Linked DNA regions of Homo sapiens: regions 1 and 3 are each linked to region 2. The links come from fine-mapping of genetic effects on gene expression. A gene starts in region 2. Each other region holds a variant in brackets. All regions are shown on one strand. Distances are between the middles of the regions.

What was found. PIP is the estimated chance that this variant, and not a neighbour inherited with it, causes the effect.
Region 1: its variant is fine-mapped to the expression of DPEP3 in whole blood (TOPMed, PIP above 0.99).
Region 3: its variant is fine-mapped to the expression of DPEP3 in whole blood (GTEx, PIP above 0.99).

The regions. Positions count from the first base shown.
Region 1 is chr16:68,156,182-68,164,181 of GRCh38, reverse strand. NFATC3 (nuclear factor of activated T cells 3) reads right to left here. Exons shown (of 10, transcript NM_173165.3): 4 at 6,114-6,313. Among named protein-coding and RNA genes, the nearest start is that of MIR6773, 73 kb to the left of the region's middle. RefSeq lists an enhancer at 1-618. The variant A/C (reference allele first, on the strand shown) is at 3,438.
Region 2 is chr16:67,976,894-67,985,162 of GRCh38, reverse strand. DPEP3 (dipeptidase 3) reads left to right here and starts at 4,664. Exons shown (of 10, transcript NM_001370198.1): 1 at 4,664-5,069; 2 at 5,398-5,524; 3 at 6,537-6,666; 4 at 6,755-6,896; 5 at 7,156-7,225; 6 at 7,334-7,510; 7 at 7,809-7,893. The coding sequence starts at 4,783. RefSeq lists silencers at 1-237, 360-459 and an enhancer at 4,840-5,340.
Region 3 is chr16:68,002,363-68,010,631 of GRCh38, reverse strand. It overlaps the pseudogene KARS1P3. Among named protein-coding and RNA genes, the nearest start is that of DPEP2, 7.0 kb to the right of the region's middle. RefSeq lists an enhancer at 3,273-4,046. The variant A/T (reference allele first, on the strand shown) is at 4,695.

The sequences.
Region 1 (8,000 bases), 180 kb before region 2:
GTGATCCGCCAGCCTCGGCCTCCCGAGGTGCTGGGATTGCAGACGGAGTCTGGTTCACTCAGTGCTCAATGGTGCCTAGGCTGGAGTGCAGTGGCGTGATCTCGGCTCGCTACAACCTCCACCTCCCAGCCGCCTGCCTTGGCCTCCCAAAGTGCCGAGATTGCAGCCTCTGCCCGGCCGCCACCCCGTCTGGGAAGTGAGGAGCGTCTCTGCCTGGCCGCCCATCGTCTGGGACGTGAAGAGCCCCTCTGCCTGGCTGCCCAGTCTGGAAAGTGAGGAGCGTCTCTGCCCGGCCGCCATCCCATCTAGGAAGTGAGGAGCGCCTCTTCCCGGCCGCCATCCCATCTAGGAAGTGAGGAGCGTCTCTGCCCGGCCGCCCATCGTCTGAGATGTGGGGAGCGCCTCTGCCCCACCGCCCCGTCTGGGATGTGAGGAGCGCCTCTGCCCAGCCGCGACCCCGTCTGGGAGGTGAGGAGCGTCTCTGCCCGGCCGCCCCGTCAGAGAAGTGAGGAGACCCTCCGCCCGGCAGCTGCCCCGTCTGAGAAGTGAGGAGCCCATCCGCCCGGCAGCCGCCCCGTCTGGGAAGTGAGGAGCGTCTCCGCCCGGCAGCCACCCCGTCCAGGAGGGAGGTGGGGGTCAGCCCCCACCAGGCCAGCCGCCCCGTCCGGGAGGGAAGTGGGGGGGTCAGCCCCCCGCCCAGCCAGCAGCCCCGCCCGGGAGGTGAGGGGCGCCTCTGCCCGGCCGCCCCTACTGGGAAGTGAGAAGCCCCTCTGCCCGGCCAGCCGCCCCGTCCGGGAGGGAGGTGGTGGGGTCAGCCCCCAGCCCAGCCAGCCGCCCCGCCCGGGAGGTGAGGGGCGCCTCTGCCCGGCCGCCCCTACTGGGAAGTGAGGAGCCCCTCTGCCCGGCCACCACCCCGTCTGGGAGGTGTACCCAACAGCTCATTGAGAACGGGCCATGATGACAATGGCGGTTTTGTGGAATAGAAAGGGGGGAAAGGTGGGGAAAAGATTGAGAAATCGGATGGTTGCCATGTCTGTGTAGAAAGAGGTAGACATGGGAGACTTTTCATTTTGTTCTGTACTAAGAAAAATTCTCATTCTGTTGATCTGTGACCTTACCCCCAACCCTGTGCTCTCTGAAACATGTGCTGTGTCCACTCAGGGTTAAATGGATTAAGGGCGGTGCAAGATGTGCTTTGTTAAACAGATGCTTGAAGGCAGCGTGCTCGTTGTTAAGAGTCATCACCACTCCCTAATCGCAAGTACCCAGGGACACAAACACTGCGGAAGGCGGCAGGGTCCTCTGCCTAGGAAAACCAGAGACCTTTGTTCACTTGTTTATCTGCTGACCTTCCCTCCACTATTGTCCTATGACCCTGCCAAATCCCCCTCTGCGAGAAACACCCAAGAATGATCAATTAAAAAAAAAAAAATGATCAACATGTTCTTTGATCTTTGCTTGTCTTTCTTCAGCCCTTCTCTGTCTATAAAGTCAACCTTGTCGGAACACTTATGTATTTTATGGAATGAAGTGTTGCCCAATTCCAGAATCACCAATAAAGCCAATTGAGATGTTTAAAAAAAAAAAAAAAAGAGTTTAGGCTTGAAATAACCAAGCCCATGGCTTAGTAGGCAAAACCAAGGGAGTATCTATGAATTTTTCCACACCTTATTGCCTTAAGAGAACAGTAAAGACACTTAATACATACTTAAGGTTCACTTATGCATAAATTATTTTGAACCATGGTCTTATCTATCACCTGGGAATTTTAAACCTACCATTATCTGGAACTATATTATATTCAACCACTGTACTGAATAATATAGTTACATTCAACAAGCTACTAGGATACTAGTTTATCCTAGCAATTAGCTACTGAGTAAACAGGCTCATTCATCATTAGCTACCCTGGTATCTACAGTACCTAAAAAAAGTTTCTTAGGTTTAGTAACATCCTAGTTGCCCCTTATTTAATCCTTTCTCCAATATACATAACGCTTGGGTCCTACAGAACTCCTGTTCCACAATCTACCAGTACAGAGCAGATAGAATGGTCAAGAAGTTTTAGGTATGTGTGTGGTAGGGTTGCAGGAGGAGGACTACCTGTATGTTACTAGTCATAGTGGTATTTCTGCAGCCTGGTCCTTTCTGGTCTAAAATACACAGTACATGCTAGATCTGGTTGAGGAAGGGACATAAATTATGACTATTACCCTTGTTCCATGTGCTAGTAAATGGAAGATGATGGAGGAGACAGGTAAATTTAGATCCTACTGCTCCAATGCTTTCATATTATTTGGGATATGAGCCTTTCCCAATTTCTTGATAATTTTTCATAGAAATTAATATACTCTTTTCTATTTATTGGTTTATATATTATTTTCAGAAAGGATATGAGGCATTTTACAATATAGATACAAATAAAGCCAAGAAAAAATAAATAGAAAAAATTTTAAAACACTAGGAAGTAAACTCCAAGTCTAGAGTTGTACAAATTACTATAATTACTGTAAACGGGCTTGACTATGAAGTTCTGGAAGCCAAGGCAAAAAGTAAATGTGATAAAGTTGTTATAGGCCACGTGTTGTACGGTAAAGCAAAATCTACCATGCCATCGGGAAACACTAACTTTTTTCCTTTAAGTTGAAAGGACTGTGTTTGTGTGTGCATGCACACACGCATGCAATAGTGATCAACCTAAGAGAAACTGTCTTTAATAGTGGTTTTTCAGATTATGAAGTATGTTCATGGCTATTTCTCATACTGTCCCTCAAGCCAAGTTAAGTAACAGAATAAACTTGTGATTTTTCTATTTAACTTGATTCGAATATTGTGCTTTGAATATCCAGAGGAATGAATGCAAACATGGCCTGCAAACTATCGTCTAGGGATCAATTTCCTGAGTTTTTGGAAAAAGACAGTTCAAAGGTGATTTTTAAATTTCCCTCTACAGCTGACTAATCACATATCACATGCTTCTGATGCTATATAAAAAAGTAAGATCCCAGAACAAAAGGGAAGAAGCCTACTTGTATTCTCATTCAGAGGTTGGGCATGTTAACCTTATTTGAAAATGTGTCCAATAGGATGCCTGGTGTCAATATTTTTCCTCAAGAAAGTTTTGCTCGAGTATCTGAATAAATACAGGCTGAGATTCCAAAGTTCTTTCTACATTATAGAACACAAATGTTTAAGGCCGTTGCAGTGGCTCACATCTAGATGTAATCCCAGCACTTTGGGAGGCTAAAGCGGGTGGACTGCTTGAGGCCAGGAGGTCGAGACCAGCCTGGTCAACATGGCAAAACCCTGTCTCTACTAAAAATACAAAAATTAGCCAGGAGTGGTGGTGCACGTGTGCAATCTCAGCTACTTGGGTGGCTGAAGCACGAGAATCACTTGAGCCTGGGAGGCAGAGGTTGTAGTGAGCTAAGATGGTG[A/C]CACTGCACTCCAGCCTGGGCAACAAATTTAGACAGTCTAAAAAAAAAAAATTTAAGAGTAGAGATTATCAGCTAGCTGTCTGCCTTTGCTGTGAAAAAACTCTGTCATAGCCCCTATGCAATGATTTGCTGGGTTAGGTTCTTGAGTACTGTCCATCTGAACCAAAGCAGGCAAAAATTTTATTTAAATTTATATTTATTTAAAGATTTTATTTAAATTTATATTAACTTTTCTTTTCTGGTAGTAATTAACAGAATAAGGTTTTTTGTTTTTTGTTTTGAGACTAAGTCTCACTCTGTCGCCCAGGCTGGAGTGCAATGGCGCAATCTGGGGTCACTACAACCTCTGCCTCCTGGATTCAAGCGATTCTCAAGCCTCAGCCTCCTGAGCAGCTGGGACTACAGACAGGACAACTATGCCCAGCTAATTTTTCTATTTTTTAGTAGAGTTGGGGGTTTCACCATATTGGCCACGCTGGTCTCGAACTCCTGACCCTCAAGTGATCTGCCCAAAATAAGTTATGTATTGAGGCAACTCTTATTTTACCTAATAGAAACATATCAGTTTCTATGTCCTCAGGGAGTACACTCAGCTCATCTAAAAAGTTTATTTAAATATAAATTTAAATGAAGAGAGCTCAAGACTGAAATCTGATTTTTTGGGGTTTCTTTTTCTTTTTGAGTCGGAGTTTCGCTCTTGATGCAATGGAGTGATCTCAGCCCACTGCAGCCTCCACCTCTGGGGTTCAAGCAATTCTCCTGCCTCAGCCTCCTGAGTAGCTGGGATTACAGACACCCGCCACCACACCCAGGTAATTTTTTGTATTTTTAGCAGAGACGGGTTTCACCATGTTGGCCAGGCTGGTCTCAAACTCCTGGTCTCAGGTAATCCGCCCACCTCGGCCTCCCAAAGTGCTGGGATAATAGGTGTGAGCCACTGCGCCCAGCTGAAATCTGTTTTATAGGACTGTTCTTGCAATAGCCTGGGATGGATGTTATTCCTGCCTTAAGAAAGGTCTGTGGGCCAGGCTCAGTGGCTCACGCCTGTAATCCCAGCACTTCAGGAGGCCGAGGTGGGTGGATCACGAGGTCAGGAGATCAAGACCATCCTGGCTAACACGGTGAAACCCCATCTCTACTAAAAATACAAAAAAATTAGCCGGGCGTGGTGGCAGGTGCCTCTAGTCCCAGCTACTCAGGAGGCTGGGGCAGGAGAATGGCATCAACCCAGGAGGCGGAGCTTGCGTGAGCCGAGATTGCACCACTGCACTCCAACCTGGGCCACAGAGCGAGACTCCATCTTGAAAAAAATAAATAAAAATATAAAAAAAAAAAAAAAAGAAAGAAAGGTCTATAGTGTAGTTTGAAACAATTTCTGTAATAAAAATCTAAGTTTCCCATGTCTGGTTGTGCCTACTACCCACTGATAGGTGCCTGCCTACTCAATATCCTTTCTTTTCTTCTTCCTCAGTAACAGGCCCCTACATTGCTTTGTTTGTTTTTTGTTTTTAAAGATAGGATCTCACTCTTGCCCAGGCTGGAGTGTAGTGGCAGTGGCACTATCTCGACTAACTGCCACCTCTGCCTCCCGGGCAAGTGATCCTCCTACCTCAGTCTCCCAAGTAGCTGGGACTACAGACAGGCGCAACCGCACTCGGCTAATTTCTGTAATTTTAGTAGAGACAAGGTTTCGCCATGTTGCTCAGGCTGGTCTGAAATTCCTGAGCTCAGGTGATCCGCCTGCCTTGGCCTCCCAAAATACTGGGATTACAGGCATGAGCCATGGTGCTCGGCCTCCCTAAATTATTTGAGGTGACAATGTGTTCTGGTAAACATAACCATGTGTTCCTTACATATAAGCATGATCAATGAGATGTAGAGTTGTTAAGTAGGTTTTAGGAAAAGGTTCTTAAAAGAGGATTTGACTCCAATGGAAGTTCCCTTTTACCCTTCCTCCACACCTTTCTCCTTATTACCCCTCTGGTAATAAGGATGTCATGGCTAGAGCTCCAGCAGCCATTTTAGATCATAAGACAATCTTTAGGATGGAAACCACATGCTAAAGACGGCAAAGAAGAAAAAACTTGCTTGGGGCCCTAATGACTTATGCAGCTACTGTGCTAGCCCTAAAATATCTATCTGTATATTTCGTTTATGTGATAAAACACTAAACCCCTAACTGTTCAAGCCACTGCATATCAGGTTTCTATTACAGGCAACTATATATAATCCTTTTGTACAAAACTCTATTGCATTCTCATTCAGAAGTTGGCCACCTCATCTTATTTGGAAATGGGTCAAGTGGGATGCCTGGAGGTAAAGTCAAAAGTTTTCCTTAAGGAAATAGAACAATCATAATTGTATCATAATTGTTTATTTATTGTCTACCCTATTAGATAGACTGTGAGCCATTTGATGAAAGTCCAGATACAGTATTTATATCCCTATCACCTAGGATAATGGCTTGGCTGGTAATATATAGTATAAAAACACTTACTGAATTGAATTTTCCTTCTGGAAATATGCTACCACTCTTAGAAAATGTACTAAATGTACATTATTTACATAATGCCATTTAGAACAATATTTTATATTTATATTCAAAAATATATTTACTTTTTTTCTGAAAGTATAGAGAAAAAAAGAACTGCACATTTTAGGTATATTTCAAAATACCTGGCTGACATATTATTTTCAGGAAGAAGTGGAATTTCCAGAACTTTTGTACTGGCAATTATTATCTCTTGGCTTGCAGTAGCGACTGTCTTCCCAGTGATTCGATGCACCTGGTAAAATGCATGAGGTCGTAAATATCGATCATCTGCTGTCCCAATAAACATTTGTAGATTTATTGGCTTTTCGTTATAGCCCAGGAGCTAATCAGGAAAAAGAAACACAGAAAAGCACAATTCATTATCCATGCATTTTACAATATGCCAACAATAGTAAGTCTATTATATCTCTATCATATACTATTGACACACAAAATGTTATTTCAAAAAATACAACCAAAAGTAACCAGTGAGCAGCCCTCCAAATTTCCAAATTAGTTTAAGAAATAAAACACTGGAATACGTTACATAAAGGAATGTGGGTTTGGTTTTGTTTTTTTAAGATAAATATCTAGATCGACCAAAACTGTACAAAGCTTTCTGACTCTGCTGTAGAAAACACAAAAGAAATACTGATTCTGTACTCTGGGCAACATTAACCATTCAGACCAGACCTAAAGATTTGGGTATATAGGAAGGTCCTCTAACAGACTGTTAAATCGGAGACACTTTTAGTAGAAAGAGTCTGAAAACCCCTATTCCATATATTATAAACTTACAATTTTATAAGTATAAACTTACAGACCCCAAGCAGCCTAGCTAAGGCTAAAACTGAAATGAGATTTTGAGCTGCCACCAACCACAGGGAGACAAGTTTTCCAGGCTGACTCCAACCAAGTTAAATGCCTATTTAAGCAAACAATTTCAACAATCTTCGGGAAAGAGAAAGAGGGAGAGAGGGAGAGAAGGAGAAGGAGAGAGAGACAGAGACAGAGAGAGAGAATGTGTTTGTGCCTTTGTTTTCTATGCCTTTTTTTTTTTCTTTTATATTGCCTAATTGCTCTGGCTAGGACTTCTAGCATAAGGCTGAATCGCAGTAGTGAAAGCAGGCATCCTTGTCTTGTTCCTGATGTTAGAGGGAAACCTTTCAGTCTTTAACCATTAAGTATGATATTAGGTGTGAGTTTTTCAAGAATCCTCTTAATCACACTAAGTTTCCCTCTATTTTCAGTTTGCTTTGTTTTGCCTTTTTTTGAGACAGTGTCTCGCTCTGTCACCCAGGCTGGAGTATAGTGGTACGATCTCTGCTCAGTGCAACCTCTGCCTCCTGGGTTCAAGCGATTTTCCTGCCTCAGCCTCCCGAGTAGCTGGGATTACAGGCACCCACCAACATGCCCGGCTAATTTTTGTATTTTTAGTACAGATGGGGTTTCACCATGCTGGCCAGGGCGATCTGAACTCCTGACCTCAGGTGATCTGCCCGCCTCGACCTCCCAAAGTGCTGAGATTACAGGTGTGAGTGACTGTGCCCGGCTGTTTTGCTTTTTTTAAATCATGAAAGGCTGCTGAATTTTGTCAAAGGTTTTTTTCTCTATCAACTGAGATGACCACATGGTTTTTCTCTTCATTCTACTAATGTAGTAAATTACACAGATTAATTTTCATATGTTGAACCACTCTTGCTTTCCTGGGATAGATCCCACTTGATCATGGTGTATAAACTTTTGTAGTGTGCTGATGGATTTGGTTGCTAAGCATTTTGTTGAAGATTGTTGCATGTATATTCATGAAGGATATCGGTTTGCAGTTTTCTTCTCTTGTATCTTTGTCCCCATCATTATCCATTTGTTTTTGTTTTTGTTGTTGTTGTTGTTTTTGAGACGAAGTCTCGCTCTTGTCCCCCAGGCTGGAGTGCAGTGACACGATCTCAGCCCACTGCAACCTCTGCCCCCCAGGGTCAAGCGATTCTCCTGCCTCAGCCTCCCGAGAAGCTGGGATTGATTACAGACTC
Region 2 (8,269 bases):
TCTCTGCCCTTCCTGAGAGAACCAAAGCTAGAAGCAGCTGGGTCACACTTGGCCATTAACCCCCAGGCATGAGGAGGAGCAGACAGCAACCAACAAGGGGAAGTGGTCGCCAGAGGCCAAGGCCCTTCTTGAGGTGCCCAGAAGGGGATGCCCACTTATCAGGGAGCCCAGGTGGAAAAACAAGAGACAGACACAGACGCAGAGGGAAGATAATTTAGATTCGGTCTGTGTCATTGGCCTTTCTCAGCAGCAACTGGCCCAGGAAGTTCAGATGCTACCCAGATTCAGGGTTTTTTTTGTTTTGTTTTGAGACGGAATTTCCTCTTGTTGCCCAGGCTGGAGTGCAGTGGCGCGATCTCAGCTCACTAGAACCTCTGCCTCCCAGGTTCAAGTGATTCTCCTGCCTCAGCCTCCCGAGTAGCTGGGATTACAGGCACCTGCCACCAGGACCAGCTAATTTTTTTTGTATTTTTAGTACAGACGGGGTTTCACTATGTTGGCCAGGCTGCTCTCGAACTCCTGACCTCGGGCGATCCACCCAACTTGGCCTCCCAAAGTGCTGGGAATACAGGCGTGAGCCACCATCCCCAGCGTTGTTTTTTTTTTTTTTTTGACAGGGTCTCACTCCCATTGCCCAGGCTGGAGTGCAGTGACACGATCTCAGCTCACTGCAGCCTCAACTTCCTGGCCTCAAGTGATTCTCCTACCTCAGCCTCTGGAGTAGCTGGGACCTCCGGTGCGCACCACCACGCCTGGCTAATACTTTGTATTTTTAGTAAAGACAGGATTTCACCATGTTGCCTAGGCTGGTCTCAAACTCCTGGACTCAAGCAATCTGCTTGCCTTGGCTTCCCAAAGTGCTGGGATTACAGACATGAGCCACTGCGCTGACCCAGATGCAGTTTTTGTTTGTTTTGAGACGGAGTCTTGCTCTGTTGCCCAGGCTGGAGTGCAATGCACTCGGCTCACTGCAACCTCCGCCTCCGAGGTTCAAGTGATTCTCCTGCCTCAGCCTCTTCAGTAGCTGGGATTACAGGCACACACCACCCTGCCCAGCTAATTTTTGTATTTTTAGTAGAGATGGGGTTTCACTGTGTTGGCCAAGCTTGTCTCAAACTCCTAGACTCAAGCAACCTGCCCGCCTCAGCCTCCCAAAGTGTTAGGATTATAGGGGTAAGCCACCGCATCCGGCCCCAGATGCAGTTTTGAGATCTATTTCCCCTGCACCAGGATTTTTTCAACAGGAAATGACGAGGAGCTGCTGGAAGCTAGCCTTGTATTGTCTTTAAGGAGGATTTCTGCCCCAGGTGAAATAACGTGTCAGACCAAGCCCCCTCATGCTCTCAGGACCAAGAGACCTAGTCTGATCTTGTCCCTCAACTCCATGCCTTAGAGAATCCACCTGTGCCTCCTCCACAACAGTTGTTGTAATGCCCAAACTAGACCTCTGCTGGGCTGTTAGCCAACCCTGGATCCCCTCTCCACTCCTCCATGCCCGATCCAGACCTTTGAAGCAAGGTTCAGCTACTGCTGTGGTGCCTCCCCCAACCCCCATGACCCTGATTAGCCCTCACCAGCACTACCCATGATTTCCCTTAGCCAGTATCACCATAATAAAGAAATGAGATGCAAACTGATCAGGGTGCAGGTAGATCTCTTCCCGAGAGGATAACTGCTAACTAACATTTGATGTGTAGACTCTTCTGGGGTCTTTTTGTGTCCGGAATTGGTGGGTTCTTGGTCTCACTGACTTCAAGAATGAAGCCACAGACCCTCGCGGTGAGTGTTACAGTTCTTAAAGGTGGCGTGTCCGGAATTTGTTCCTTCTGATGGTTGGATGTGTTCGGAGTTTCTTCCTTCTGGTGGGTTCGCGGTCTCGCAGGCTCAGAAGTGAAGCTGAAGACCTTCGTGGTGTCACAGGTCTCAAGGCGCCGAGTCCGGAGTTCTTCGTTCCTCTCCGTGGGTTCATGGCCTCGCTGGCTTCGGGAGTGAAGCTGCAGACCTTCGCAGTGAGTATTACAGCTCATACAGTATGGATCCAAAAACGGAATAGCAGCAACAGCCATTGCAAACAGCAAAAGAACAAACCTCCCACTGCCTGGAAGAGAACCCCAGCAAGTTGCTACTGAAAGAGCGGGCAGCCTGCTTTTATTGTCTTATCTGGCCCCACCCACATCCTGCTGATTGGTCCATTTTACAGAGAGCTGATTGGTCTGTTTTACAGAGAGCTGATGGGCCCGTTTTGACAGGGTGCTGACTGGTGCGTTTACAATCCCTGAGCTAGACACAAAAGTTCTCCACGTCCCCACTAGATTAGCTAGATACAGAGTGTCGATTGGTGCATTCACAACCCCGGAGCTAGACACAGGGTGCTGATTGGTGTGTTTACAAACCTTGAGCTACATACAGAGTGCTGATTGGTGTATTTACAATCCCTTAGCTAGACATAAAGATTCTCCAAGTCCCCACCAGACTCAGGAGCCCAGCTGGCTTCACCCAGTGGATGCTGCACCGGGGCCGCAGGTGGAGCTGCCTGCCAGTCCGGCGCCGTGTGCCCGCACTCCTCAGCCCTTGGGCAGTCGATGGGACTGGGCGCCGTGGAACAGGGGTTGGCGCTCGTCGGGGAGGCTTGGGCTGCACAGGAGCGCACGGCGGGGGTGGAGGCTCAGGCATGGAGGGCTGCAGGTCCCGAGCCCTGCCCGGCGGGGAGGCAGCTAAGGCCCAGCGAGAAGTCGAGCACAGCAGCTGCTGGCCCAGGTGCTAAGCTCCTCACTGCCCGGGCCGGCTGGCCGCTCCGAGTGCGGGGCTTGCCAAGCCCACGCCCACCCGGAACTCGAGCTGGCCCGCAAGCGCAGCCTGCAGCCACGGTTCCCGCCCACGCCTCTCTCTCCACACCTACCCGCAAGCTGAGGGAGCCGGCTCCAGCCTTGTCCAGCCCAGAAAGGGGCTCCCACAGTGCAGCGACGGGCTGAAGGGCTCCTCAAACGCGGCCAGAGTGGGCGCCAAGGCCGAGGAGGTGCCGAGAGGGAGCGAGGGCTGTGAGGGCTGCCAGCACGCTGTCACCTCTCATTTTTGTGTCTGTATACTAACATATATATAGAAAAAAATATTCGGCCCGGTGCGGTGGCTCACGCCTGTAATCCCGGAACTTTGGGAGGCCAAGGTGGGCGGATCACGAGGTCAGGAGATCAAGACCATCCTGGCTAACACGGTGAAACCCGGTCTCTACTAAAAATACAAAAAATTAGCTGGGCATGGTGGTGGGCGCCTGTAGTCCCAGCTACTCGGGAGGCTGAGGCAGGAGACTGGCATGAACCCGGGAGGCGGAGCTTGCAGTGAGCAGAGATGGAGCCACTGCACTCCAGCCTGGGTGGCACAGTGAGACTCCGTCTCAAAAAAAAAACCACGTCTCTAAAAAAGAAATAAGGCCGGACGTGGTGGCTCATGCCTGTAATCCTAGCACTTTGGGAGACCTAGGTGGGCAGATCGCTTGAGCTCAGGAGTTCAAGACCAGTCTGGGCAACATGGTAAAACCCTGTCTCTAAAAAAAAATGCAAATATACAAAAATTAGCTGGGCATGGTGGTGCATGCCTGTAGTCCCTCCCAGCTACTTAGGGAGCTGAAGCAGGAGGATCACTTTTACCTGGGAGGTCGAGGCTACAGTGAGCTGAGATGGTGCCACTGCACTCCAGTGAGACCCTGTCTCAAAAAAAAATTTGTTTTAATAAAATAAAAAATAACAATTAGCCATGCATGGTGGCACTGCACCTATAGTCTCAGCTACTTGGGAGGTGGAGGAAGGAGGATCGCTTGAGCTCAGAAGTTCAAGGCTGCAGCAAGCTATGATCAAGGCTGCAGCAAGCTATGATCACCCCACTGCAACTCCAGCCTGGGTGACAGATACTCTGTCTCTTGGAGAAGGAAAAAAAGCTAAAATAATGATCCCCAACAAAAATTGTTCTTAAATTTCATTTTCGGGGCCGGGCACGGTGGCTCACGCCTGTAATCCCAGCACTTTGGGAGGTCGAGGCAGGAGGATCACTTGAGGTCAGGAGTTCAAGGCCAGCCTGGCCAACATGGTAAAACCCCATCTCTACTGAAAATACAAAAATTAGCTGGGCATGGTGGCGGGCACCTGTAATCCCAGCTACTCGGGAGGCTGAGGCAGGAAAATGGCTTGAACCCGGGACGTGGAGGTTGCAGTGAGCCGAGACTGCATCATTGCACTCCAGCCTGGGCAACAAGACCCAAACTCCGTCTCAAAACTGAAATGAGATGAAATGAAATAATGAAATGAAATGAAATGAAATGAAATGAAATGAAATACCTATAGGGAATCTTTCTGTCCATCAAACCAGACAGACCGAATTAACTCTTCTGAGTCGCAGCTTAGAATATTTGACCTGCCTAGGAGCTGGGCACAAGCCGGCAGCTAACCGCCACGTGGGCCTGGGTAGGAGGTGAGATCAGGAAGATCCCTGGGCCCCTACTAGTTCCCTGCCTGGCCTCCTCCCCCACTCGTGTGGGGGTCTACGGAGCCAGCGCTGGGGGTGGAAGGGCGAGGAGTCCTCGACGCTGCAGCGGCGGTTCCGGCCCATGGGGGCGCTCTCCTGCTTGGGGGCGGAAAAGCCGTGGCGCCCCCTTGCGTGGCGCGTCGGTCTCAGAGTCGCGTGACTTCAACCCCCTCTTCGGGAGGCTGGGTCGTCATGATCCGGACCCCATTGTCGGCCTCTGCCCATCGCCTGCTCCTCCCAGGCTCCCGCGGCCGACCCCCGCGCAACATGCAGCCCACGGGCCGCGAGGGTTCCCGCGCGCTCAGCCGGCGGTATCTGCGGCGTCTGCTGCTCCTGCTACTGCTGCTGCTGCTGCGGCAGCCCGTAACCCGCGCGGAGACCACGCCGGGCGCCCCCAGAGCCCTCTCCACGCTGGGCTCCCCCAGCCTCTTCACCACGCCGGGTGTCCCCAGCGCCCTCACTACCCCAGGCCTCACTACGCCAGGCACCCCCAAAACCCTGGACCTTCGGGGTCGCGCGCAGGCCCTGATGCGGAGTTTCCCACTCGTGGACGGGTATGTAGGTGCAGCGTTTGGGCAACGCGGGGTGAGCACACCCTTGGGCAGGAGAGGAGGTTCTGAGCATGCTATCAAGGAGGCTATCAAGGAGGCTCCCTCACACCACCCCTGGATGCCCTCTCTCCTCCATCACCCATGGGTGCCCTTCCCCGCATTACTCCATTCCTGGTGGAATCTAACCCCCTCCCTCCAACCCAACCTCAGGAGGTCTCTATATGGTCTGTGTGAGGAGGTGCCTGGTGGGGTGGAGGAGGGTAGACCCAAGCACCTGATATATCCTGACTGATCTGGAGGCGGTGTTTCCATCTGACCTTCACACCCCCAGCCACAATGACCTGCCCCAGGTCCTGAGACAGCGTTACAAGAATGTGCTTCAGGATGTTAACCTGCGAAATTTCAGCCATGGTCAGACCAGCCTGGACAGGCTTAGAGACGGCCTCGTGGGTGCCCAGGTACCACAGGGACACACAGGGTGCCACAGCATGGCTGCTGGGGGATGTTGGGGTCACAGAAACCTGGGTCAGCCAGCCTCTGGGTGACTAAATACAATGGGGCATGCAGTGTGCCATCATGTGGTTTCTAAGGAGAGTGGGGCCTTGGAGGCCAAGACAGGCTAGCTGCATGTATGCCCAGGTTCTGTGGAAACACGCAGAAAATGACCAGAAAATCCCTGGTGAGTGTGGGGTCTGCCGTAACCACAAAGGACATAGTGGATTGGCCTTGGGGCATTCACATAGCACATGGACTAACAGCAGTTTTTTGCTTGTTTGTTTGTTTGCATTTTTGAGACAGTGTCTCCTTCTGTCGCCCAGGCTGGAGTACAGTGGCACGATCTCGGTTCACTGCAACCTCCGCCTCCCGGGTTCAAGCAATTCTCCCTGCCTCAGCCTCCTGAGTAGCTGGGATTACAGGCACTCGCCACCACGCCCTGCTAATTTTTGTAGTTTTAGTAGAGACAGGGTTTTACCATGTTGGCCAGGCTGGTCTCGAACTCCTGACCTCACATGATCCACCCTCCTCGGCCTCCCACAGTGTGGAGATTACAGGCATGAGCCACTTGGCCTGGCCGTAACAGTAATTTATGATGTGTCGTGAGTCCATCATTTGACTGCTGGCAGCAAACAGTCATCAAGGAACCAGGCTCGGTAGTTCACATCTGTAATGCCAACACTTTGGGAGGCTGAGGCAGGAGGATTGTTTGAGCCTGGGGGGTCAAGGCTGCAGTGAGCCATGATCACACCACTGCACTCTAGCCTGGGTGACAGAGCAAGACCCTGTCTCAAATTTTAAAATAAAAATAAAAAATAATTTTAAAAAAAGTCATCAAGGTACCATGGAGTCATGTAGTGCCTCACTTGGGGCCACTGACCCAAATGGGTGTTATGGGGTCTGAGGCAGGAGTGGCAGGCCTAGGGGGTTGAAGACCGCCCTGGCCTCATTCTGGACCCCTTGACCTACCCTCAGTTCTGGTCAGCCTCCGTCTCATGCCAGTCCCAGGACCAGACTGCCGTGCGCCTCGCCCTGGAGCAGATTGACCTCATTCACCGCATGTGTGCCTCCTACTCTGAACTCGAGCTTGTGACCTCAGCTGAAGGTGGGCCAGCAGATGAGAGGTAGTCAGGATGTCACTCTGGAGGTTCTGTTCCTGGGATCTAACCACTTGACTCTCTACCTCCTTCTAGGTCTGAACAGCTCTCAAAAGCTGGCCTGCCTCATTGGCGTGGAGGGTGGTCACTCACTGGACAGCAGCCTCTCTGTGCTGCGCAGTTTCTATGTGCTGGGGGTGCGCTACCTGACACTTACCTTCACCTGCAGTACACCATGGTGAGCATAACACCTGGCCAGGATGCTAGATGGCATGGTGTGGAAACTGCCCCATTCCTGGCATGGGTGTGACCAAGCCGTTGAGGATGAAGGGGTCCGCAGAGGGAGGCTGGACACCCAGTGGGTCCCTCACAATCCCAGAAAGCAGCTGGTTCTGCACCTGTTCTGGAAGCAGGATGGATGGATAGAGCCAGGGCCCCCAGGCTGTGATGGCCCAAGGTGTGATCAGCTAAATTGCCCTTCCATGGCTGTCCTGCAGGGCAGAGAGTTCCACCAAGTTCAGACACCACATGTACACCAACGTCAGCGGATTGACAAGCTTTGGTGAGGTGAGGACTCCTGTTTTGTACCCCAACCCACCTGCTGCCTACGGATATGTGTGTACACCTTTGCACCCCAACACCCTCCCCCACAAAAAAACCTAATTGTTTCTGCAGAAAGTAGTAGAGGAGTTGAACCGCCTGGGCATGATGATAGATTTGTCCTATGCATCGGACACCTTGATAAGAAGGGTCCTGGAAGTGTCTCAGGCTCCTGTGATCTTCTCCCACTCAGCTGCCAGAGCTGTGTGTGACAATTTGTTGAATGTTCCCGATGATATCCTGCAGCTTCTGGTGAGTGGCCATCCCAGCTCTCAAACTAGGCATGTGTTATCCAAAGGTTCTTGACCCTGAGCACAAAGCCACCAGCCCAGGTTTCACACACCCTTGGACCAAAGGCTGGTTAATCCTCCTCCATCCCTGAAACTTAAGGCCAAGTAATTTCCACTCAGGGACCCACAAACGCAGAGAGGTGAAGCCTCTTCCAACCCCTGAAGCCAGGATGGAGCACAGTCCTACCAGGGCCCCCACAGCACAGGAGGCATGTTCTCAGGCCAGAAGGGCTGAGATGAGTATCCCTTTATCCCTCTAGAAGAAGAACGGTGGCATCGTGATGGTGACACTGTCCATGGGGGTGCTGCAGTGCAACCTGCTTGCTAACGTGTCCACTGTGGCAGGTAAGTCCCACCTCAGCTTTGTGCAGTGCTGGCTTGGGCTGTGGCTGCCAGGGCCCTCAGGACGACTCTAGCAGTCTAGTGCACCTGTTGGGCAATGGGCAGACCTCCCAACGACCCAGAGGCAGCAGACACAGCTCTTCAGTGCCACCCAGATCTGGAGCCACAGAGTCAGTGCTGATGTGTTTGATGCCTCCTGGTTTTGCTCCCAATCCTTGAACTTCTCTCATTCCCCACATCTCTGGGCAGGACAGGCTCAGCCTGCACCAGGCTCTCAAGGAACCCAGAGGCAGGGTGGCTCCTGGGCAGGAAAAGTCCCAAAGGGGTGGCTCCAAGGTCCACTCTAGGTCCAGTGACCAGCCTGTACCCGCTTCAGGAC
Region 3 (8,269 bases), 25 kb before region 2:
GCACATGCCACTACACTCGGCTAATTTTTGTGTTTTTAGTAGAGATGGGGTTTCACTATGTTTGCCAGGCTGGTCTTAAACTGCAGACCTCAGGTAATCCGCCAGCGTTGGCCTCCCAGGGTGCTAGGATTACAGGTGTGAGCCAACACACCCGGCCTACAAGACTGACCAATTTGAGGGCCAGCAGAAAGGCCAGTGTGGCCAGGGAAGAAAGATAGAGGAGATTGAAAGATGTGGTGGCTGGGAGGCCAAGGAGGGAGGGTCACTTGAGCCCAGGAGTTTGAGACCAGCCTGGCAACATAGGGAGGTGCCCTTTCTACAAAAAATCAAAAAATCAGCTGGGTGTGGTGGTGAATGCCTGTGGTCCCTAGCTACTCAGGAGGCTGAGGCAGGAGGATTGCTTGAGCCTAGGAGGTATAGGCTGCAACGAGCCATGATCCTGCCACTGCACTCCAGCCTAGGCAACGAGTGAGACTCTGTCAGAAAGAAAGAAAGGAAGGAAGGAAGGAAGGAAAGATGGAAGGAAGGAAGGAAGGAAGGAAGGAAGGAAGGAAGGAAGGAAGGAAGGAAGGAAGGAAGGAAAAAAAAATAAGATGGTTGGAGGCCAGGTGCAGTGGCTCACTCCTGTAATTCCAGCAATTTGGGAGGCTGAGGCTAGTGGATCACCTGAGGTCAGGAGTTCGAGACTAGCCTGGCCAACATGGTGAAACCCTGTCTCTACTAAAAAATACAAAAATTAGCTGGGTGTGGTGGCAGGCGCCTTAATCCCAGCTACTTGGGAGGCAGAGGCAGGAGAATCATTTGAACCCGGGAGGCGAAGGCTGCAGTGAGCCGAGATCGAGCCATTGCACTCAAGCCTGAGGGACAAGAGTGAGACTTGTCTCAAAAAAAAAAAGAAAGAAAAGAAAAAGGTGGTTGGAGAAGTAAGGAAGTAAGCAAGTAAGCATGGGCCAGACCATAGTGGGCCGTGCCAGCCACGGTAAGGACAGTGGATCTTGTTTTAAGTATATTGGGAAGTCATGGAGGAATCTGAATAAGGTAGGGAAGTAATCTGATATAGATGCTAAAAAGATCCGTCTGACTGCTGCGTGCCATGGTAGTGAGGTGCTGGCTGTTACCAGGGGGACTGTCTCTCTCTGCAGCTGGGACAGCTGGTGCTGGGGACTGGGGGATGGAGGAGCAGTCAGCAGAGAAGAAACACCATGACGTTTGTCCCAAGTCTGCCTGTATCAGCAGCCCAGAAAAAGGCGGCACTGTCAGCAACTCACTTGTCCTTAGGGGTCCCAGCAGCAAGACTGTTGCTCCTCCCCCCAACACGCATACCATGGAGGCCAGGAAAGGTCCTGATAGGTTTTCCTAACTTGGGTTAAAGGAAGGAGGCACAGGCCCTGGGCTCCCAGAAAGTTCCCTGTGAGAGTCTCCATTAACCCCCAGAGTCTCTCATCCGTGGCGTGACTGAAGCAGATTTGTGGTTCCTGGATGGCCTGGATAGTTTGGCAGTTCCCAAAGCTGAAACAAATAGACTCAACTGGGGCTCTTAAAAAAGAGTGATCCCGGCCAGGCGCAGTGGCTCACACCTGTAATCCCAGCACTTTGGGAGGCCAAGGCGGGGAGATCACGAGGTCAGGAGATCGAGACCATCCTGGCTAACACGGTGAAACTCCGTCTCTACTAAAAAATACAAAAAAAAAAAAAAAATTAGCCAGGTGTGGTGGTGGGTGCCTGTAGTCCCAGCTACGCGGGAAGCTGAGGCAGGAAAATGGCATGAACCCGGGAGGCGGAGCTTGCAGTGAGCTGAGATCGCGCCATTGCACTCCAGCCTGGGTGACAGAGCGAGACTCGGTCTTAAAAAAAAAAAAGTGATCCCCAGCACCCACACCAGTCTAAAGTTTTAGGGTACTGGCCTAGAAATCCACAGTATTAAAAGCTTCCCCTCAGCTGGCCATGGTGGCTCATGGCTGTAATCCCAGCACTTTGGGAGGCTGAGGTGGGAGGATTGCTTGAGCCCAAGAGTTCGAGACCAGCCTGGGCAACACAGCAGCACTCCATCTCTACAAAAAATATTAACAGTAAAGAATTAGAAAAAAAAATTTTAAATAAATAAAAGCTTGCCTTAACTACCAGTTTATAGAAAACACAAGGACACAGGAACATGTTAAATGACACCATGAGATGCAATCAGAAAACTCTACAACATGGAAAACTCTAACGGACAAGGACGTGATTTTTTCAACAAAGAAATTGCAAGGAAGACAAAAAAAAGAAGAACCTGAAGATTGAGTCATAACAACCATTTACAATGTGGGCGGTCTGAGCTCCATTACAGTTCAAACCAATGAATTATTTAAAAATTGGACAATCAGATAAATTTGAACATGATAGATAATTTATGATACTAAAGAATTGGGCTGGGCACGGTGGCTCATGCCTGTAATCCCAGCACTTTGGGAGGCAGAGGTGGGCGGATGACATGAAGTCAGGAATTCAAGACCAGCTTGACCAACATAATGAAACCCCGTCACTACTAAAAATACAAAAAAATTAGCCAGGTGTGTTAATGCGTGCCTGTAATCCCAGCTACTTGGGAGGCTGAGGCAGAAGAATCCCTTGAACCTGGGAGGTAGAAGTTGCAGAGAGCCAAGACCACGCCATTGCACTCCAGCCTGGGCAACAAAAACAAAACTCCGTCTCAAAAAAAAAAAAAAAAAAAGGCCGGGCGTGGTGGCTCACACCTGTAATCCCAGCACTTTGGGGAGGCCGAGGCGGGTGGATCACAAGGTCAGGAGATTGAGACCATCCTGGCTAACATGGTGAAACCCCATCTCTACTAAAAATACAAAAAATTAGCCAGGCGTGGTGGCAGACACCTGTAGTCCCAGCTACTCGGGAGGCTGAGGCAGGAGAATGGCATAAACCCGAGAGGCGGAGCTTGCAGTGAGCCGAGATGGCGCCACTGCACTCCAACCTGGGCGACAGAGCGAGACTCCATCTCAAAAAAAAAAAAAAAAGTGGCTGGGTGTGGTGGCTCATGCCTGTAATCACAGCACTTTGGGAGGCCAAAGAGGGAGGACTGCTTGAGCCCAGGAGTTCGTCACCAGCCTGGGGAATAAAACAGGACCCTGTCTCGGCCAGGCGCGGTGGCTCATGCCTGTAATCCCAGCACTTTGGGAGGCCGAGGCGGGTGGATCACGAGGTTAGGAGATCGAGACCATCCTGGCTAACATGGTGAAACCCCGTCTCTACTGAAAATACAAAAAAATTAGCTGGGCATGGTGGCGGGTGCCTGTAGTCCCAGCTACTCGGAAGGCGAGGCAGGAGAATGGCGTGAACGCAGGAGGCGGAGTTTGCAGTGAGCCGACATCACCCCACTGCGCTCCAGCCTGGGCAACAGAGGGAGACTCTGTCTCAAAAAAAAAAGACCCTGTCTCTACAAATTTTAAAAGAAAAGTACTGTTAACTTTTATAAGGGTCATAATGGTATGGTAATTGCCATTTATTTATATATTTATTTATTTTATTTTATTTTTCAGAAACAGGGTTTTAGTATGCTGCCCAGGCTGGCCTCAAACTCCTGGGCTCAAGCAATCCTCCTGTTTCAGCCTCCCAAATAGCTAGTAGGACTACAGGAATGGCCCAGTGCACCTGGCTTATAGTTGTCTTTTAAAAACAGCCATTACCATTTATTTATTTATTTATTTAGAGACTGAGTCTTTCTCTGCTGCCCAGGCTGGAGTACAGTGGCATGATCTCAGCTCACTGCAATCTCTGCCTCCTGGGTTCAAGCAGTTCTCCTGTCTCAGACTCCTGAGTAGCTGGGATTATAGGTGTCCTCCACGACAACCAGCTAATTTTTGTATTTTTAGCAGAGATGGGGTTCGCTATGTTAGCCAGGCTGGTCTCCAACTCCTGACCTCAGGTGATCCACCCACCTCAAGCTTCCAAAGTGCTGTGATTTCAGGCAAGAGCCACGTGCCCAGCCTAAAAAGAGCCCTTACCTTTTAGAGAGGCATACTTAAAAATGGATGAAATAGATGTCTATGATTTGCTTTAAAATAATCTGTAGAAAGAGGTGAGTGAGAGCATAAATGAAATAAGATGAGCCATCAGTTGGTAATCTTTGAAACTGGGTGATGGCTACATGGGAGTTAATACACTTTTCTCTCTCCTTTCTCATGTATTTGCAATTTTTCCTATAAAAAGTTTTTTGGTCTGGGCACAGTGGCTCATGCCTGTAATCCCAACACTGTGGGAGGCTAAGGTGGGAGGATCACTTGAGACCAGGGGTTTGAGACCAGCCTGGCAACATGGTGAAATCCCATCTCTACCAAAAAAAAAAAAAAAATTAGCTGGGTGTGGTGGCACCACCCTGTAGTCCCTGCTACTCGGGAAGCTGAGGTGAGAGGATCACCTGAGCCCCGAATTTGAGGCTACAGTGAGCCATGACGGCACCACTGCACTCCAGCCTAGGCCACAGAGGGAGATACAGTTTCAAAAAAAAAGTTTTGTGTTGTTGTTTTTAACTAAGCTTCTCAGATTCACCCAGATGCGGAGTCAGTGAGATCTCACATGGTCAGCTTCACAGGAGGGCAGGCTTTCTGCATAAAAACAGGAAGCTTAGAGAGCTCCGGGGCAGGGTGTGCTGTGACTTCACTGTGTTTTTGCAGAAACAGGTCTGATAGCCCTCGGAGATCAGC[A/T]GACAAGGTTAAGCAAGAGACAGCAAGTCTGAATTTGAGGTTAAATGTGAAATCACACATGTTGTCTAGATGTTTGGTCAGCACTGGCTCCTGGATCTTGGGGGCCTCTACAGAGCCCACCCTCCACCCCCATGTGCTTATGCCAGCACATGTGATAGCTGGAGACTTATCCAGCCACCTCACTGCACACCCCAGCAAATGGCCAGCACCAGTGGGTGATCAGGAAATGATGCCCGGACAAACTGATAGATGTAAGGAATTTGAGGCTGGGCACAGTGGCTCACGCCTGTAATCCTAGCACTCTGGGAGACTGAGGTGGGCAGATCCCTTGAGGTCATGAGTTTGAGACCAGCCTGGCCAACATGGAGAAACCCCTGTCTCTACTAAAAATAAAAAAATTAGCCAGGCATGGTGGCGTGCGCCTGTAATCCCAGGAAGCTGAGGTAAGGAATTTGAGGCCTTTCCTAGAGGCAGCAGCTGGAAGTGGAGGGATTGAAGGAACCCCTCATCTGACCAGCTGCTCAATTTTCTTACCCACACGATAAGGCTGGTTCCTTAACTACACGGCCACGTGAAAAAAACAAAAAACAGGGCCAGGCACAGCGGCTCATGCCTATATTCCAGTACTTTGGGAGGCTGATGTGGGAGGATCACTTGAGGCCCGGAGTTCGAGACCAGCCTGGACAACATGACAAAACCCCATCGCTACTAAAAATGTGAATATTTAGCTGGGAGTGGTGGTGGGTGCCTGTATTCCTGGTTACTCTGGAGGATGAGGTATGAGAATCCCTTGAACCCTGGAGGCAGAAGTTGCAGCGAGCCGAGATTGCGCCACTGCACTCCAGCCTGAGCAACAGAGCAAGACTTCATCTCAAAAAAAAAAGAAAAAGAAAAAAAACACAATTTTGGGTCCAGGCCCTCTGGGAAGATGACTGCAGTACAAGGGGCCAAGGTTAAAGTGGATGGTGGTGAGTCAAAACTGAGCAAGAACAAGCCGAAGAGATACCTGAAAGCCGAGAAGAAAGTGGCAGAGAAGGCAGCCAAGCAGTAAGAGCTCAGTGAGAAACAGCTAAGCCCAGGTCACTGCTGCTGCCACCAACCATACCACTGACAATGGTGTGGGTCCTGAGGAGGAGAGCCTGGACCCAAATCAGTACTACAAGATCCACAGCCAAGGCCAGGCCCGGTGGTTCACTCCTGTAATCCTAGCACTTTGGGAGGCTGAGGCAGGCAGATCACTTGAAGTCAGGGGTTCGAGGCCAGCCTGGCCAACATGATGAAACCCCATCTCTACTAAAAATACAAAAATTAGCTGGGCATGGTGGCACATGCCTGTAATTCCAGCTACTTGGGAGGCTGAGGTAGGAGAATCGCTTGAATCTGGGAGGTGGAGGTTGCAGTGAGCTGAGATTGAGCCACTGCACTCCAGCCTGGGCAACAGAGCGAGACTCTGTCTCAAAAAAAAAAAAAAAAAAAAAGATTTGCAGTCAGGTAGGTCAATGGGAAAGACCCATACCCCAACGAGATCCATGTAGACATCTCCCTCACTGACTTCATCCCAGAATATTGTCACCTGCAAACTGGGGATCTCCTGACTGATATCACCTTAAACGTGACAGATAGGATCCATGCCAAAAAAGCTTTTGGAGGAAAGCTGAACTTCTATGATCTTTTTTTTTTTTTTTTTGAGATGGAATTTCACTATTGTTGCCCAGGCTGGAATGCAATGGCACAATCTCAGCTCACTGCAACCTCCTCCTCCCTAGGTTTAAGCAATTCTCCTGCCTCAGCCTCCCTAGTAGCTGGGATTACAGGCGTGCGCCACCACGCCCGGCTAATTTTGTATTTTTAGTAGAGGTGAGGTTTCTCCATGTTGGTCAGGCTGATCTCGAACTCCCAACCTCAGGTGATCTGCCTGCCTGCCTTGGCCTCCCAAAGTGCTGGGATTATAGGCGTGAGACACAGTGCCCAGCCATGAACTTCTATGATCTTTGAGCAGAGGGGGTCAAGTTGCAAGTCATGGCCAATTTCAGGAATTATAATTTCAGGAAGAATAATTTATTCATATTAATAACAAACTGCGTTGGGGAAACATAATTGGAATTCAGAGGAATCCTGGGAAAAACCAAGAAGGATGAGCTGAGCTTCATTCCCTATGAGATCACACTGCTGTGGCCTTGCTTGTATATGTTACCTCATCTTCACTTTGGCCTCAAAGACAAGGAAATAAGGTATGGTCAGAGATACTTGGACTTGATCCTGAATGAATGAGGCAGAAATTTATCATCTGCTGTAAGATCATCACATGTATAATAAGTTTCTTAGGCCAGGTGCAGTGGCTCACGCCTGTAATCCCAGCACTTTGGGAGGCCAAGGCAGGCAGATTGCCTGAGGTCAGGAGTTCGAGACCAGTCTGGACGACATGGTAAAACCCCACCTCTACTAAAAATACAAAAATTAGATGGGCGTGGTGGCAGGTGCCTATAATCCTAGCTACTCAGGAGGCTGAAGCAGAATTACTTGAACCCAGGAGGTGGAGGTTGCAGTAAGCCAAGATTGCACCACTATACTCCAGCCTGAGCAACAAGAAAACTCCATCTCAAAAAAAAAAAAAAAGTTTCTTGGATGAGCTGGGATTCCTAGAGCTTGAAACTCCCATGAATGAACGTCATCCCAGGGGAGCTATGACCAAGCCTTTCATCACTTATCACAACAAGCTGCACATGAACTACTCTAGAACTCTACCATAAGATGCTAGTGGTTGGTGGCATTGACCAGGTTTATGAAATTGCATTCCAGTTCTGGAATGAAGGAATTGATTTGACGTAAAATCCTGAGTTCAGCACCCCTGAGTTCTACATGGCCTAGACTATCACAATCTCACGGAAATCACGGGGAAGATGGTTCCAGGGATGGTGAAGCATAATACAGGTAGTTACAAGGTCACCTACTACCCAGATGTCCCAGAGGGATAAGCCTGCAATATTGACTTCACCCTACCCTTCCGGAGAATCAGCATGATAGAAGAGCTTGAGAAAGCCCTGGGGGTGAAGCTGCCAGAAAATAACCTATTTGAAACTGAAGCAATTGGCAAAATTCTTGATAATATCTGCGTGCAAATGCTATTGCGTGCCCTCCACCTAGGACCACAGCCAGGCTCCTTGACAAGCTTGTTGGGGGAGTTCCTGGAAGTGATTTGCAACAATTCTACATTCATCTGTGATCACCCCCAGATAATGAGCCCTTTGGCTAAATGGCACTACTCAAAAGGTCTGACCCAGCGCTTTAAGCTATTTGTCATAAAGAAAGCGATAAGCAATGCCTACACTGATCTAAATGATCCTATGCAGCAGTGGCAGCTTTTTGAAGAACAGGCTAAGGCCGCAGGTGATGATGAGGCCCTGTCCGTAGATGAAAACTTTGTTGCCGCCATGGAATACAGGCTGTCCCCCACAACTGCCTGGGGCATGGTTATTGACCGAGTCACCATGTTTCTCACAGATTCCACCAGCAACTCGGAAGGCTGAGGCAGGAGGATTGCCTGAGCCCAGGAGTTTGAAGTTTCAGTGAACAAC